Homo sapiens: one gene and its partner. The protein of the gene in region 1 interacts with the protein of each later gene in a biochemical or structural test. Each region holds a gene or a part of one and is shown in the gene's direction. Other genes may lie near its edges.

Evidence for each region.
Region 2: the proteins of RRN3 (region 1) and PPP2R2A form a complex in vitro, tested with the Homo sapiens proteins (one study listed by BioGRID).

The regions. Positions count from the first base shown.
Region 1 is NC_000016.10:15,066,709-15,070,532, reverse strand, and holds part of RRN3 (RNA polymerase I-specific transcription initiation factor RRN3), read left to right. Parts: intron 1-278; coding exon 279-463; intron 464-2,255; coding exon 2,256-2,364; intron 2,365-3,824. UniProt on the Homo sapiens protein: Required for efficient transcription initiation by RNA polymerase I (Pol I). Required for the formation of the competent pre-initiation complex (PIC).
Region 2 is NC_000008.11:26,357,213-26,361,036, forward strand, and holds part of PPP2R2A (serine/threonine-protein phosphatase 2A 55 kDa regulatory subunit B alpha isoform), read left to right. Parts: intron 1-2,956; coding exon 2,957-3,069; intron 3,070-3,761; coding exon 3,762-3,824. UniProt on the Homo sapiens protein: Substrate-recognition subunit of protein phosphatase 2A (PP2A) that plays a key role in cell cycle by controlling mitosis entry and exit. Involved in chromosome clustering during late mitosis by mediating dephosphorylation of MKI67.

The DNA.
Region 1 (3,824 bases):
GGTTAGGAGAACCTGCTTTCCATCCCTTGGGACGTTCTTAGGGGCTCACCTGTTCCTAGAAGGTCAGAGCTACTCTGCCTTGTAATTGGAAGGTTGTCTTCCTACGCACCCATCCTTATCCTTCCTTTCTTTGCTTTTCCTCTGTACCCATGGGTATTATTTAAAGAAACCTATGAACTTACTTAGCATGGTTTGTAATGAAAGGCAGTTGTGTGTTTTTATGTTATTCTGGTTTTTTTATGATGTGTAAAGTTGACTTGAATTTTTCTTTTCTCTAGTACTGTAAAATCATGCCTAGATCTTTTGGTTAACTGGCTGCACATATACCTTAATAACCAGGATTCGGGAACAAAGGCATTCTGCGATGTTGCTCTCCATGGACCATTTTACTCAGCCTGCCAAGCTGTGTTCTACACCTTTGTTTTTAGACACAAGCAGCTTTTGAGCGGAAACCTGAAAGAAGGTCAGTGTTGTGGGAGTGCTGGACTGGATTTTCCTTGTGTTCTTGTCACCCTTCAGAATGGTGATTCATTACTTTTTTGAGATTTTTATAAAAACTGGATTCAGAAAACTGCATGTGCACTCAAACTTTTAATAATAATTTCAAGCAGCTCATAGGCCCCTACAAACCCCTTAAGATAGATTTGAGCTTGAGAACCCTACAAACCCCTTAAGATGGATTTGAGGTTAAGAAAGAGGTTTCTGCCTTTGAAAGTTTGAAATGTGAAGATGTCTCCAGAGGTGAGGCTGAGCCCTGGGCTGTGCCAGCGCCCTGTACAAAGCTTCAGTTGGATGCACCTTCTCTTTGTTGTCCTTGTAACAGCCCAGTAAATGGCAGGTATTCTCCCTTTACAGACAGCACTAAAGCACAGGAAAGTCATTTTCCCAAGATCACATGGTTAGTGGCAGGATTAGAAAACTGAAGCCAGGTTTGGCTGACCCTAAAGTTTGAGTTTATATAGATTAAACTCTGCCTGAAGCCTTGAGACTTAATTGACCAGTATTGTTTTGCTAATTTCTAAGAGTTACTTATAATTCAAATCTGTCAGTTGAAACTTATTAGATTAGTGTATTTTAGTTGAAGAGAGTCTCCAAGAACAGTGTTTATAAGTCATTGTAAATTGTTCTGTTTATGTTTATGAATAATTCTTATGGTTTTGTGGGTCACTTCCTCTAAACCGGGGTCTCTGAACCCTGCACGATTGCCATTTGGGCTGCATCATCCTTCATCGTCGGGGGCTGTCCTCTGCACTGTAGGATGTTTAACAGCCTCCACCTACTAGCTGCCAACAGCAGTCCCCGACCACCCCCAGCTGTGACAACTAAAAGTGTCTCCAGATACTGCCAGGTGTCCTCTGCGGGGGTCGCAGTCTCCTTGGGTTAACAGCCACAGCTCTAAACTGAAAGTTGTATGTGTTGCATTATATATGTTTACCTACATCCTACATGCTTCTAAAAGATGTTGTATGAACTAGTAGGATGAGGTTTTATCACAAGGTAAGTAAATACAAGCTCTGCTTTTCTTTGTATAAATTAATGCCAGGAATCTGGATTAAATATCTTGTTTTTGTAAGCTGTGACATCCCATTTAGGTAATTTTTATTGAAATACGTATCAAAGAAACTCCTAAGAAAATATACTTAAGTACAAGTTGGTCAGCTTGCCTCTTAAAATAAATGTGATGTCTTTATTTTACTCATGTAGAAAAGAATTATATTCATTAAGTCTAAGAAAGTGGTTTCTGTCTAAATTTGCCGTCCGTTGAGGTAGAAGGCAAATTTGGAGTTTTCTTGTTTAGAAAAAAAACTACAGATGACTACTGTGCACCTGAAAACAGCACTCAGCTTCACTAACAAGACATGCAAGCTAGAATCAAATTGCTGTTTTGTTTTGTTGCCTGTCATGATTGTTAGCTGAAACCAAATCACAAGGTCTTTTCTCCCTCTGTATTATCTCAGCATACACTGAGCTTGCAAACATATGAATTTCACATTGTCGTGGAATCTTACAGCCTGCTACTTCCTAAGTTTTCTTTAGAGAAGCTGCCTTGGTGACCAATGAATGTGGTTAGCCTAGTGATACTCTTCTGGGCCATATACTGTGTGACTATCTGCATGGACCTTTATTTAAAGCATTTCTGCAAATAATTTTTTAAAGTTTTTTTTAAATGTGTGATAATTTGTGCTTTTAAAAGTATCTTACACTTTTCACTTATTTGTACCTTTAAAAAAATCTTTTTTTTTTTTAAACCAAAGGTTTGCAGTATCTTCAGAGTCTGAATTTTGAGCGGATAGTGATGAGCCAGCTAAATCCCCTGAAGATTTGCCTGCCCTCAGTGGTTAACTTTTTTGCTGCAATCACAAAGTAAGTTATTTACGCTTTCTTGATGGGAGTTATTTAAAATATTTTTATTTATGTTTATCTAGTATTGTAAGAGTGTTAAATTTCTATGAAATTAGTAACATTATAAAAGGCCAGGCGTGGTGGCTGACACCTGTAATCTCAACATTTTGGGAGGCTGAGGTGGGAGGATTGCTTGAGGCCAGGAGTTAAAAGACCAGCCTGAGCAACATAGTGAGACCCTATCTCTACAAAAAAATTTTAAAAATTAGCTGGGTGTGGTTGCCTGTGCCTGTAGTCCCAACTACTCAGGAGGCTGAGGTAGGAGGATCACTTGAGCCCAGGAAGTCAAGGATGCAGTGAGCCCTGATTGTACCACTGCACTCCAGTCTGGGCTCCAGAATGAGACCCTGTCTCTTAAACAAACAAAAACAACCCAGTCCTTGCAGGAAATACTGTGATACAGCTATTGTTTTTATACTTTGATGGCGTTGGAAATTACTACTACTTCTTATCCAAAGGGCAGCACTTTGAAATAAGTATGGCAACCAGTAAGCTGAGAGGGGCAAAGCCATAGATGCTTATTAGAGTGACTCCTGTAATAGTAATAGAAATAAACTGGACATGAGGCAAATGTTGACCTGTAAGAGATTGGTTTAGAGAGTTCTGTTCTCTCAGGTCTGGTAGCTATGGCTAATCCATAGCCTTTCCTCTGTGCCAGGCAGTTCTAAGCACTTTACATAGAACTCATTTGATCCTCTAGGATGAAACCCTGTTTATCAACAGGGAGGTGGAGGTACAGAGAGGTGAAATCACTTGCCTAAAGTCATAGAGCTAGACTGGCAGCACAGATTTAAATGTAGTCTGGCTCCTTTGTAAGCTTTCACTAAGTTATTCTGCTTTATGGAGAAAGCGAATTGGAGAATTGAATATTCAATGAGGATATTTAGGCCGGATCATAGCTTAAAATCTTCAACAGATAAGAGCCAACAGCTTGCTGAGCTCCGTCAGCCTCTTTAGTTCTCCTTTGCTAGGCGTCTGGTTCAAGGTGTCCTCTCTTCTGAGTCTCAGTGATAGTAAAGGATTAGGAAAAGGCATAAAGAGACCAATAAGCAACGGCAGTGAGTGGGTGGAGGCTTCAGCACGTTGGTTAAGATGGTGAGCAGCTCAAAGAGTGAGGATGGATGAAGCAAAGCAGAGGCCGCTGCCCCTGGTATGTTCTCGGGGTGGGGACAGAGGACTGCATTTGTGAACCATCTGGTCCAGGGGCTCTCGATTTGGGGTTGGCATGCGCATTGGAGGCACAGAGTGTGATGCGATGTGAGGCTAAGAGCAGGGGATTGAAATAAAAGTCTCTGCCTAGGTACAGATATGGTAAATAAAGGCGTGTACCATTCTGTAGCTGTTGCTTTTGCCTGCTTGATGCTTTTGAGATTGAACCATATTGACACAAAGCTTTATTTTGATTTTAACTGCTGTGTTAT
Region 2 (3,824 bases), on another chromosome or scaffold:
ATTCTGAGTGATATCTTTTATATTATTTTGTGTATTTTTCTCTGTGAGTTTTTTCTGTGAGCATAGTAACACCCCCCCCCCCCAATATAATGGGTCTATATAAAAACTATATCTGTGGGAGAATGATGGAAAATAGTACCAAACTTTCCAGGTTTGATTAACCAAAATTAATCTTATAAAAATATTTGCATTGGCTTTCCATGATCATTATATGAACTGGGTTTCCCAGATCATTTTTACTTAAAGGACGTCATAGTCACCTTATAACTTGAGTTAATTTAATGTTCCTTCAAGCATTTTAATTCTCTTTCTCTTTAATCTTCTTTTGCTCCTCTGAATTCTCATTAATTCCTCTACATTGCAGAAAACATGAAACTGACCTGTCAACCATGAGTGTTACATATATGAATAATGTAAAGTTCACTCATAAATAGGGTGTGTCTTAACAACTTCTTGATAAGTTTTTTAGGGTCTTACATAAAGCTGCATTCCCACAAAGGAAACGGCAGCGTGGTTTTCCCTGCTCATACCTCTCATACCTTCTGCTTGTGGTGAGAGGAACTCTGTTCTTCTGCAGTTTCTCCAATGCTTTAGTTATTAGTGTTGATAATTCAGGGGAACACCACAGTGTGGTCGTTTTGGAAGGAACAGATCTTGAGAATCTAATAACGTCTCCACTGAAAACTGTGTTTTTACATAATCTCACATACAGTTTTATGGAGTTTGATTATTCTCACATACTTTGTCTTATGGGCCAAAAACTCCAGGTAATAAAATATCACTGCTGTAGAACATAAGGATTCTGATTTTTTAAAAATTTATGTCATATTTATTAACATACTGATTTATTTCCTGCCTGCCTTGTCCCCACCTTACTGAAAAATGTATCCTAATTCATATGTGTCCTGTGTTTGTGTTAAGGAAAAAACATTTTTTAAAGAGCTTTCTTCCTGTAAACACTATTAGGCACCACAAACTAATTTTATCTCATCTGAAAGTTTCATAAATACATTGTGGTTTCTTTATTTGGATCTTTAATAAGGAGGATGGATTTAAACAGGCCACAAGACAACTGGACCAGGGGGCGGGGGTGTTGTCATCCTCATCACAAATACTTTGCAAGTATTTAGAACAAATACTTCTCAGAATACAGATTTAGGCTAGGCTCATATCTATCTATAAATCATATACATATATAAACTAAATAACACATAGAAAATCTGTATGACTGAACTACAAGAAAATTATAAGCAAGGTCACATAGGGCTTAGAAGAAATAATAGATTACAGATGATTAAAGTTAGCAGTTTTTCTCTGTTTACACTTCATCATTGGGAAGGGCATCCTTAGGGGCAACTATCATTCTTCTGTACGATACAGAGACTGCCAGGCTAGAGTCACTGGCATCTCTCTGAGTTGTTTCTGTTTTTATAAAATGGCTTTATATACTGTTATAAACAATTTTGTTACACCATTTTGCTTATGAAAGATCGTTAGGAATGTATGCTTTTCTATAAGAAAAACTGTTATACAATTGTAACAGTTTTAAATCAACATGCATGAGCCTATAGTGATACAAATAAACAATTGAATGGATACATGGAGAGCAGGGATGCTTCCTGCAGGAGAATTCTAAATAAGACGTGGATACATACTCTTCCCTACAGGGAGTATAACTTATTTCTCCCTTTAAGTACAGGCTGGATTTAGTGACTCACTTCCAAAGAACAGAATATGGCAAGGGTGAAAGAGTCATTGTATAGTGGAGAAGCCTGGCAAACATTGTCTTAACCAAATGACCCAAGTTAACGCCACCAGCTGTAAGTCATGTTGATACCATGTATCCCTTTGAACAATGCTGTGAGAAGTCACTTCATCTCTCTGTTCTGTTCCTAAAAACCCATGGTCCCAGTCTGATCATGAGGAAAGAGCAAGCAAATCCAGTTGAGGGATATTCTACAAAGTACCTCACCACCACTACTCAAAACTGTCAAGATCAAGAAAAATAAGGAGAGCCTGAGAAACTTAAAGGCAGAGAGACTAAGGAAACTTGATGACTAAATGCAGTGTTGTTTGAATTCTGGAGCAGAAAAGGAATGTTAGTGGAAAACCTGGTTAAATCTCCAAATGCAGTCTGTAGTTAATAGTAATATACAAAGTCGACGTCTTAGTTTTGACACACGTACCATGGTTGCGTAAGATGTTGACAGAAGAAACTGGGTAAAGGATATATGGAACACTGCAATTCTTGTAACTTTCTGTAAATCTAAACTTAATTGTAAAACAAAAGTTTGTTTTTAAACAGATGCCATTTTATATATCCTTGATACCTAGGAATTTGGTTTCTTCTTGAAGGACTTGGGGATGTATGCTTTTAATCAGTTTTCTTCAGGCCCTGTTTCCTACTTGTGAACCCTGATACAAGAAGGGGAAAGGTTTTAAAAAGGAGGCATCCAGTCCTATGGAGGCCTCTGTGGAATCTTTGATAGGCTCTGCTAAGAAGTGGGAGCAAGGGAGAGCAGCTTTACTATTTTGATTCTACATAATAGGCAGTCTTAATCAACTTCATTGTTCCCTTTAAATTTTTTAAAATTCAGTACTGAACATGTATATGTTTACATGTAGGTACAGACATATATGTGTTTGCATACACCACACATGCATATCAAGTTTTTCCCTCTAGCTTTAATTACTTTTAAGGGACAGGGATAGAGACCTGTCTGTGACTTGATTTGACTATCACATGGAATTTATGAGTGCCACCAATCTTTGCACTTTATTTCCATGTGTGTATGTTATTCAGCTGATAATAGGAAATTTTTTAGTAAGTTCAGATTAGGGTTTTTTTTTTTTTCGTGGAATCCTTTTACGTGAAATGTGAAATAGCATATTTTAAATGCCTTAAAATGTTTTTCTTCTTCAGTATTTTAAGGACTTTTCTTTATTTTCTTCCCAGATAAAACAATAAAATTATGGAAAATCAGTGAAAGGGACAAAAGACCAGAAGGGTATAACTTGAAAGAGGAGGATGGAAGGTATAGAGATCCTACTACAGTTACTACACTACGAGTAAGTACATAAGAAAAAAATGTCACAGATAGTGCTTGTATTCATATTATATAGCCCAAATCCTGAGCAGAGCTTGAATAGGAATAATTACAGTCTATCTCCCCTTTCCCAGTAATTCTGTAATCAGGTAGGACATTGAGTAACTCATTTAAACATAGAAACTGACCTACATAGAGGTCTCACTTTGGCCAGGGACAGAAGCAGGACTCAAGCACAAGACAGTATTTCACGCCATCAGACTTCATCTCTGGTTTGTCATGTTAGCTATCACAAGGTCAAGTTTCAAGATAAATTTTCTTTGGAAATCAAAAAAGTAGATACAGATCAAATCTTCTAGTTGTAGCTAAAAAATACCAAGAATTAGATGTTATGGGTTAATTTTCTTTTTAGCCTCTTTAATCTGAACCATAAACATTTATTAGCTTGGCATGTCTTTCAAGCAAAATATTGAAACTAAGAACTGCAAATTCTAATAGTATTGCAACCAGTAAAAGAAGATATATTATCCACATTGTTCATTTTTTCTTCAGCACTCGAAAGGATCAACATCAGTTGCTTTTTAAAACTAAATCTATGTAATATTGTTCTATTTTATGTTCTCAAAAACTGAAATAATGAAGTTTTCTGAATCTTAATTGCTATTTGAAACTGAGCCTTTTGTAATTTCTGTTTTTCATGTGTCTTATTGACAGGTGCCAGTCTTTAGGCCTATGGATCTAATGGTTGAGGCCAGTCCACGAAGAATATTTGCCAAT